Linked DNA regions of Homo sapiens: region 1 is linked to region 2. The links come from fine-mapping of genetic effects on gene expression. A gene starts in region 2. The other region holds a variant in brackets. All regions are shown on one strand. Distances are between the middles of the regions. Region 1 overlaps GRHPR (glyoxylate and hydroxypyruvate reductase). Region 2 holds the start of ZBTB5 (zinc finger and BTB domain containing 5).

Evidence for each region. PIP is the estimated chance that this variant, and not a neighbour inherited with it, causes the effect.
Region 1: its variant is fine-mapped to the expression of ZBTB5 in whole blood (INTERVAL, PIP above 0.99).

The regions. Positions count from the first base shown.
Region 1 is chr9:37,429,027-37,433,411 of GRCh38, forward strand. It overlaps GRHPR (glyoxylate and hydroxypyruvate reductase), which reads left to right. Exons shown (of 9, transcript NM_012203.2): 6 at 706-810; 7 at 1,485-1,620; 8 at 2,982-3,112. Among named protein-coding and RNA genes, the nearest start is that of GRHPR, 8.5 kb to the left of the region's middle. RefSeq lists an enhancer at 1-16. The variant A/G (reference allele first, on the strand shown) is at 2,376.
Region 2 is chr9:37,463,248-37,467,632 of GRCh38, forward strand. It overlaps ZBTB5 (zinc finger and BTB domain containing 5), which reads right to left and starts at 2,203. Exons shown (of 2, transcript NM_014872.3): 1 at 1,968-2,203. RefSeq lists enhancers at 1,125-1,810, 1,811-2,496, 2,497-3,182, 3,183-3,868 and a silencer at 2,031-2,130.

The DNA of each region.
Region 1 (4,385 bases), 34 kb before region 2:
AGTGGCCCTTATTTGGAGAAGCCTGGCAGAAGGGCGTGAGCCTAGCCAAGCAGCTATCTATTGGTGGTTCTCTGTCATCCTGCCTGGTGCAGGGGTGCGGGTGAGGGTGGAGAGTGTGGAGAACCTGTCTAGCCAACGAACAGCCCTGCCTCTCACTAGAGAGTTGCTTGGAGGAACCCAACAGCTTTGGGGCACGTTCTGAGCCTGAAAATCCAACTGTACAAATCTGTCTCAGCAGCAGCTTACATGAAAATTGTAAGTTTGGGGTGAGCTGGCAGTTTGGCAGTGCCACCAAAAAGTCAAATGGGGTCTGAGACTGCATTCACAGAAGCAGAGGGTCCAGGACAAAGGAGGGGACTGCTTGACCAGGTGTCTCCCTTGTGAAAACCTCTCCAGTTCTCAGAGGTTAGGAAAAACCTGAGTGGCTTTCCAGATGGCTTGGACCATGTGAGGACAGCATCAGCCAGTCACAGCCTCAGGGGAGCTGAGGTGCTGTCTCCAGATCCCTGGGGCAGTGTGGGCTGGCTGGGGGCTAGTTACAGTGGGGCAGCCAGCCCCCCACCCGCTTTGGAGGAGACAGGAGCAGGCAACTCGGGCTGTGCTGATGAAAAGGGTCTGCCCTGAGGGCCGCTGTTCCAGAAATGCTGGGTGGTGTCCCTACCCTTTGCGGGACTGGGAACGAGACATGGACTCTCCTTGCTCTAGGCCAGGCCATTGCTCGGCGTCTGAAACCATTCGGTGTCCAGAGATTTCTGTACACAGGGCGCCAGCCCAGGCCTGAGGAAGCAGCAGAATTCCAGGCAGAGTTTGGTAAGTGAAGCCTTGATTTCCACAGGAGCCTATCTGTGCCCAGTTGAGAGGCTGTATTTTCTCTCAATGGTGGCATTTTCAGGCAGAGGGCAGGAGCTCCAGGCATGTCCAGGGGCTGCTGTCTGGTAGATGTTTAATCTACCTGCCCCTGGACACTGGCCCACTCAGGGAGCACAGGGACTTACCCAGGTCCTCTCCGAGCCAGCAGAGCAGTCCAGGGCTCCCGTCTTTCAGAGTCCTTTGTTACCATTCCCCATTGTGGGCGGAGCAGCGGGGATGGTGGTGGGTGTGAGGAAGGGCTGGGCACTTTCACTGTCTTTTCCTTCATAAACTGGCAAGCACTACCCTAGCCTTTGTGTGCGCCCCTTAGTCCAGGCGGATCCAGCACCTGGCGGGTCCACAGCCTGGTGAGCAGATGGCAGGCTGGATCTCAAGCATTCCCCACGCCCCTGGGCACTTTGGGCCCTGAAGGTAGTTAAAGCCAGAGTGGTCCAGATCCCACTGTGTGTGATTTGACTTTGTGCACTCATGAGAGTTGTCCAGGTAGAGACTCGGCCTTCAGGAAGCATCTTGGGAGTTTCTGTTAGGGAGTCGGGAGCAAGGGGCTGGTCTCCCGCCATCTGGTTGTCCCTAGCCTGGGACTCAGTGCCTGATGGAGTCCTGCCCTCCCTCAGTGTCTACCCCTGAGCTGGCTGCCCAATCTGATTTCATCGTCGTGGCCTGCTCCTTAACACCTGCAACCGAGGGACTCTGCAACAAGGACTTCTTCCAGAAGATGAAGGAAACAGCTGTGTTCATCAACATCAGCAGGTATCCTAGGGCCACCTTACCCAGCAAGCCTGGAGAGGAGCCATCCCCACTGCTGCCATCTGGAGATTTTCTTCCCCGTGGGTTGTTGGTGAGACCCCAGGCTGAGCTTGCTGGTTTCCATAAACCAAACAACCAACTCAGAAATTCGTGGGAATACACGAGACCTCCGTACAGGGAAGAAGAGCCGTCAGAGTGGGCCTGGCCTGTCTGCTTCTCAGCAGTGGCCCCCACCCGGCGGGGCCTGGCACACAGCAGCGTGGCTTCAGGGAGTGTTCCCAGGGAGCCTCTGCAGGCCCATTATCCTCCACCACAAAGGGCTGGACTTGAGGATCTGAAGGGCCCTCTGGAGGCCGCCTCCCACACTGCTGAGCCTGGCTTTGTCTGGCTGTGGTTCAGTGATACTTTGAACCTTATGCTCCTGGGCGGACAGACCCTAAAACTCACGTGGTCGTAGCTCCTCACACTGTCCCTAGGGGTGCCTTCAGGCCACTGGGCATGTATGGAGGTCAGACCTTCCTTCTCTGCCACTCCAAGCCCTTCCTAGCTGGTGCCCCTTGAGCCTGTTTACATCAGTTTAGGGGAAGGGGGATTGGGTGAGGTCATCCTGAGGACTCGTCCACCCCAAAGGTACCTGTAATTACCAACATTTAGCTACAAAACAGGTGACCTGGGAATGGAAGAGTGAAACATGCAGGACCACAGGGCTCGCACTGCTGGCTGGCAGCAGTCACAGCTGCCGTGTACTGGGTGCCTGC[A/G]TGTACCCAGGACAGCCCAGGACCGTGTATTACTCATTAGTGCACAAGTATTACTTAGTGCACAATATACAGTCTCTAGAAGATGACTTCTTGCCTTCAGTCGCCGCTCCCTTTGATGGCTGTGGTTAGGGGTGTGCTCGTTCCTCTGCCCTGGTTTAGACAGGTACCTGATAGCACACTGTGGTGCTTCTCAGTGGGGGTCTGGGGGTCAACCAGATCAGAAACACTTGGATGGGGCCTAACACAGATGCCCTTCTGGGCCCTGTTCATGCAGTAGAGCATGTAAGAAAGCTTTAATCCTCCCAACATGCCTGGGAGTTAGGTGGTATTCTCCTTATCTCACAGAGTAGATAATTTGAGACACAGATAATTCGAGGCACAGAGAATTTGAGACACTTGCCCAAGGTCACACAGCTAGAAGGAGGCAGGGCTGGAGTTCTCTGAGTATATAAGACTTACAGACATACTGTAAGTATACCTAAGACTTACTGCTTTAAAAGTCAGTGCCAAGTGAGTGGAAAAATTCATTCTGTAGGTTGTTCTGCCTCAAAGGTGGCCTGGGCGGAGGGATCTTCGGGGTACCCATGTCACCACTGTCATTCCCAGGGGCGACGTCGTAAACCAGGACGACCTGTACCAGGCCTTGGCCAGTGGTAAGATTGCAGCTGCTGGACTGGATGTGACGAGCCCAGAACCACTGCCTACAAACCACCCTCTCCTGACCCTGAAGAACTGTGGTAAGAACTGCACTTTCTGATGCAAACTCCCTGCTGCCCTGCAGGACCAGTGTTTTTGAGGGGGTCCCAAGGGGCCGGGTGTGGAGCTAGTGTGAGCAGGTGTTGAACCCAAAGGGACACACCAGGGATCGTAAATGTTTATGTTGTCAGTGACATGGGTGTATGACAGGAGCAGTCCTCTTGCGCATGCTCTGCTGGGTCTCTGTCCCTAAAGGAACAGAATGTAGGTGTGAGTGGATTTGTTTAAAAAAAAAGAGTGGGCCAGGCGTGGTGGCTCATGCCTGTAATCCCAGCACTTTGGGAGGCTGAGGTGGGTGGATCACGAGGTCAGGGGTTCGAGACCAACCTGGCCGATATGGTGAAACCCCATCTCTACTAAAAATACAAAAATTAGCCAGGTATGGTGGTGCATGCCTATAGTCCCAGCTGTTTGGGAGGCTGAGGCAGAAGAATCGCTTGAACCCAGGAGGCACAGGTTGCAGTAGGCCGAGATTGTGCCACTGCACTCCAGCCTGGGTGGCAGAGTGAGACTCCATCTCCAAAACAACAACAACAACAAAGTGGGCTGACTACATGTCTCCATGTGTTACACCACAGTGACTCGTGTAAAACCTGTTACTATAAATTGCTATTACCAGTTTAGCTGTGAAAAATTAAAAGTGTAATGACAATGCCAATATAACTCGTGCCAGTTTTTCAAGCTGTTGTTTCACAACAAAGCCCCCTTCTCTCTTCTGCTTTGTGGGGCTGGGGCCAGGCCTCTGCACACCCCATTTCTGCTGTGCCAGCTGCACTGGCAGGCCTTGTCAGCGTGGGTGTGGAAGGGCCTGCTCCCTCCTGCCCTCCCTTCCTGTCTTTGGGGGAGTGGCAGCAGCACTTCTTCATCTAGCAGCACCAGTTCCTTCCCATAGTGGCTGGGGAATCCAGTTTGCAGTTTTTCCAACACTTGGTGAACCAGCCCCATTGAGCCCTGCTCAGAGACAAGAGCAACAGCCAGTCAGTGCCCGTGCCACCGAAGTCTGAGTTGCAGCACCAGAAGTGCCTCTGGCAGTTGCTACCTCTGTGCTACCACAGTGCAGTGGTTCTCACATTTTTTTTTTTTTTTTTTTTTTTGAGACAGAGTCTCGCTCTGTCGCCCAGGCTGGAGTGCAGTGGTGCAATCTGAACTCACTGCAACCCCTGCCTCCTGGGTTCAAGCGATTCTCCTGCCTCAGCTTCCCGAGTAGCTGGGATTACAGGCGTGTACCACCAGGCCCAGCCAATTTTTGTATTT
Region 2 (4,385 bases):
TACTTAGACAAAAGGCATAGTGTAGTGCTACATTCCATCCCACCTGCTACACTAACAAAACTGGCTCTACTAGACAACATCCATATTTGAGAAATATTACGTACAGTAAAAGAAAAATCACACGCTTAAAACTGACAGAGGGGGAAAGTATTTAAAATTAATTTACATTAAAAAAAAAGTTGAAAGCTAACATAGAATCAATACCTTGGGTTCTTTTTTCCATTTCCAAAACGAATGTGAGCCAGATTCAAGATTCTCTGTCAGCACTACACCAGGTTTTGTCAATTTCACTGAACACAAGATATTTTAAAGTCTCCAATTCGATATAATTCATGCTGAGTTCTTTAAGTACTATTTGATATCCCAGTGATTTTTTATTACTTCCACTTTGGGGACAGTCTTGTGAGTCTCTTTTGAGAGCGTTCGCTCCTAAGTCTGTAAGATGCCTTTCCTCCAAATCTTACCATTTTCAGAATTCTGCTAGAGACATATCAATTAACCAAAATCCAGCTTGCCAGCATCCTCAGCTAACTAAAAGTTATGTTTTGACACAACTTTTAGGGAAAAGGGGCAAATCTCTAGTAAACGAGTTGACTTCAGGACTCTTCAAAAAAAGAGTCTGTTTATTCAGCAAAACCCAAGGGCCCAAAACAGGTCCCCACCCAAGTAGTCTTACCTGTAAGGTCACCAAGCTGGCTGTGGTGGCCAGGTCAATCTTCCCAAATTTGATGAGATTTCCATAAGGGTTAAAAGGAAGAGTGAACGGTTTCCTTTGGCTTAGGGGCTTTTCTCTAAAATTCCTTGTCTTCTTCCCATCTGGACTTTTCCCTCTGAACTATTAGCTTACTGCCAACCACCGTCCCCACAGAAATCACAAGAGTTTAGGCAAATGAAAAGCAAGTTCTGCCCAGCCTTTTACATCTAAGCACAACAGCCCATACTAGGACAACAAATTACCAATGACTTAATGACTAAGGCACAGCATTCTCTTCAACCTCTAAAGAAAAGCCCGTAATGTCCTCTACTTAATACAAGTGAAAAATATGAGAACATGTTTTGGAATATTTTTGCTTCAATTTTTGAAGGTGAAGAGTTCCTTCTATTAATTCAAGTTAACTAGAGTCAGAAGATACTACTTAGTAATCAACTTTACTGTGCTTTCACCTAAAATTTTTCCTCCAAATTATTTAGGATTTGCCTTCTGTTCAGAAAATTAGTTTCCACAATATCCTTCACTATGCCAGAATGCTGACTGACTTAAAAAAAAATGACCATTATGAAAGGAAAAAACTAACCTTCAACACCCCTTAATTCACTGCCTTTTATTATTTACATACAAATCTGTCCTCCAAACAGGAGAAGATGGGACGGCAGTGTCTTACCACCGCATCCCCCACAGCTCCTCGCACGAAGCCTGGGAGTAGTGGGCATTCAATAAATGCCTATTAAACACTTCAGTCCTCTCATAACAAGTTGGGGCATTCCGAAACACTGGCTCCACCCCTCCAGGGTCGGCCGCTGGCTCCCGATGGCAGTCTGCCTATGGCCTTGCTCTGGTGAAATGAAACCTCGTCGCTCAAGACCCAGGATGGGGGCAAGGGAGCCGTCCGACCACATCCCGCAGGGCAGCAGATCCTCTCTTCATCCCGCCAGGCCGCTGGTCCTGAGGCCTTTCCCACCCCATTCGGGAACCTACGTCGCCAGCCGGGGATCCACAGGAGTACCAGCCCCCGCCCCACCCCGCAGACAGCCTGGCGTCGGGACACCGGGGACGCCTGCGCAGAAGAACCCGCCTGGCCCCTTGGCTCCAACGGTAACAATGCTCCCCTCCGAAAGACAGCCAGAGTAGTCCGGGGGCACCAGTACACGTCTGCGCGCTCCCCGACGCCTTGGCGCGCCCCTGGTGCTCAACCTTCCCCACGTGAGCGCGCCCGCCATCACGATACTCGCTGACGGGGTCTCCTCACCTGAGTCGGGCTCCGCCCCCCTCCTCCTCGCTGAAGGAGGCGGTGACCCCTCTCCGATCGGACTCGGCAGTGTCAGAGGAGGTGGGAACGTCCTGACCAGCGTCTCCGTTACGGGACTTCCTCCCCCTTCCACCCGCCCCCCTCCCACCCCGCCTCTAGTCCCCTAGCTCCTCCAGCCAGTTCGCCGCAGCACTCTGAGAACACGGCGGCGGCGCCCGAGGATAAGCGGAAGTGACGTAATGCAAGAGCGCCTACTCCGCCCCATTCCGCCTCTCCCAGTTGGGCTGCAACCAATCAGCAATGGGAAGGGCGGGGCCGGGGTAGGAGTGCAGCCAGCCGGCGCGCGGAACCTGGAGGAATTTACTTAGCCCCCGGAAAAACTGACCAATCCACGGTCCCTGAAGTCTGGTTGTGTTTACTACCGACTGAATCCGTGAGCTCTCTGACCAATCACCCTTTGCCTTACAACATGTAAAACGGTTATCAAATGCCTTTTAGGGCGGGATTTATCACTAAACTGCTCCAGGTTTGGACTATAGAAATGCGGCTGTTCGCTGCAACCAATCAAAACCCTCTGTGGTTTAGGCTAGCGGGCTTTCCGCCTAAATCCGCCAATCACAACAACGACTGCGTGATGTCTGAGGGCGCCGGAGAGGCGGGCCCTCAGGGCAGGCCGTACCGCCATTGGCTGGTTCTGAAGGATTTTTCCACCCTCGTGGTGCCCGGCGCTTTAGTGACCCAGGGCTCTTCTCCGGGGTGAATTCCCTTCGCTGAACACACACACACACACACACGTAGAGGGCTGGAGATTGAGTTCCCACTTCATAGACGTTGGGAAAGATAAGATTCCAAAAAGCTCTTTAGGTTTAACTAAGCCAAAGTCCAGGGTGAAAACCGCGAATAAAAAACGCTGTCCATCGGATGGCAGTTAGGTCGGACCCCGCCCCTCGTCCAGTCCGGGTGGCTGCGCGTCTGGAAACGGTGGCGCCCCAGGAGCCCGGCGCTTGGCCCCGCACTCGGCTGCAGGTCAAATAAGCCTGTAGTCTGCATGCCCAGATTTATAATCACCTGCACTCCCCCCACAAAAAAATAGGAAGCGCTAAGCTCTCCCACTCCTGTCCCAAACGTGGAAGGGTCGCGGACTTGTATGGGACGCGGTCTGAAAAAAGCGAGCCCCGGGGCGACGCTCGGGTTTCCAGGTGCACCCTCGGAGGGAGAACCCGATCCCTGAGCATCGGACACTGGGGCCAGGGAAGAAACCCCCTTTCCTAGGGTGAGGACGGCAGAAGAAAGCTGCCTTCTCCGGCGCAGCGTGTCTGGGAGCGCTGCGTGGCTCTGGAGACAAAGGCAGGCCCGCGAACTCAGCTGGGTTCTTCTGGGGGTGGGGGTAAGGGTCTTGGAGGAGCTCCCAGAAAAATGGAACTCCCAGCCGGGCGCGATGGCTCACGCCTATAATCGCAGCAATTGGGAAGGCTGAGGCGGGCAGATCGCCCGAGATCAGGAGTTCGAGACCAGCCTGGCCAACATGGTGAAACCCTGTCTCTACTAAAAGTACAAAAATTAGCCGGGCGTGGTGGTGGGCGCCCGTAATCCCAGGCAACTACTCGGGAGGCTGAGGCAGGAGAATCGCTTGAACCCGGGAGGCGGAGGTTGCAGTGAGCTGAGATCGTGCCGCTGCACTCCAGCCTAGGCAACAGAGTGAGATTTCGTCTGGGGGGAAAAAAAAGGAACTCCCCGCTTTAAGAATGGAACACACCGAATACCCCTACAGCAGATTCCATCCCTTCAGTTACTGGTCGGAAGTGTTGATTTCAAAAAGCAACCTGTTTGCGTGGATTTCTTTAAGGGCTCGGTGGAGTCTGATGTTTAATTCTTTTCCTTAAGATTCGCTGACACTATAGCCATCACACATATTTTACTGACAGATTGATCGGTAAAATAAGGAAAATATGGAATGATGACAGTAAGCCAGGCAATAGGAGAGATTCTTTTGCGTATCTGTCTCTCAACGGTAAATGCCATGACCTAGATTGCCTCAGATTTACAGGCTGGCAAAAGTTTTAAAAATTGTATATTCAGAATTTAGGAGTGTGTGGAAGTGGACACCCGCTATATTGTGGACGGGGGTGTCACTGATGCCCTGTTTGACGATCACTTCGTAGTATCTATCAAAATTTAAAATATGCATTTGTTCCCTTCTAGATGGTAATTCCTTTCTAGAAATATATGCTACCGAAATACAAAGATGTGGAATAATAAACCCAAGGCTGTTTACCACACCTTTGTAAGTACAAGGGGCGGGGGGGGGGGGGTAAGTGGACAACAAACCTAAATGTGTAACTAAAGAAGATTACAAAAATTTGATAAATATGTATCATGGCTCCTTCATGACTAAGGCTCCTATAGATACAAAACGAA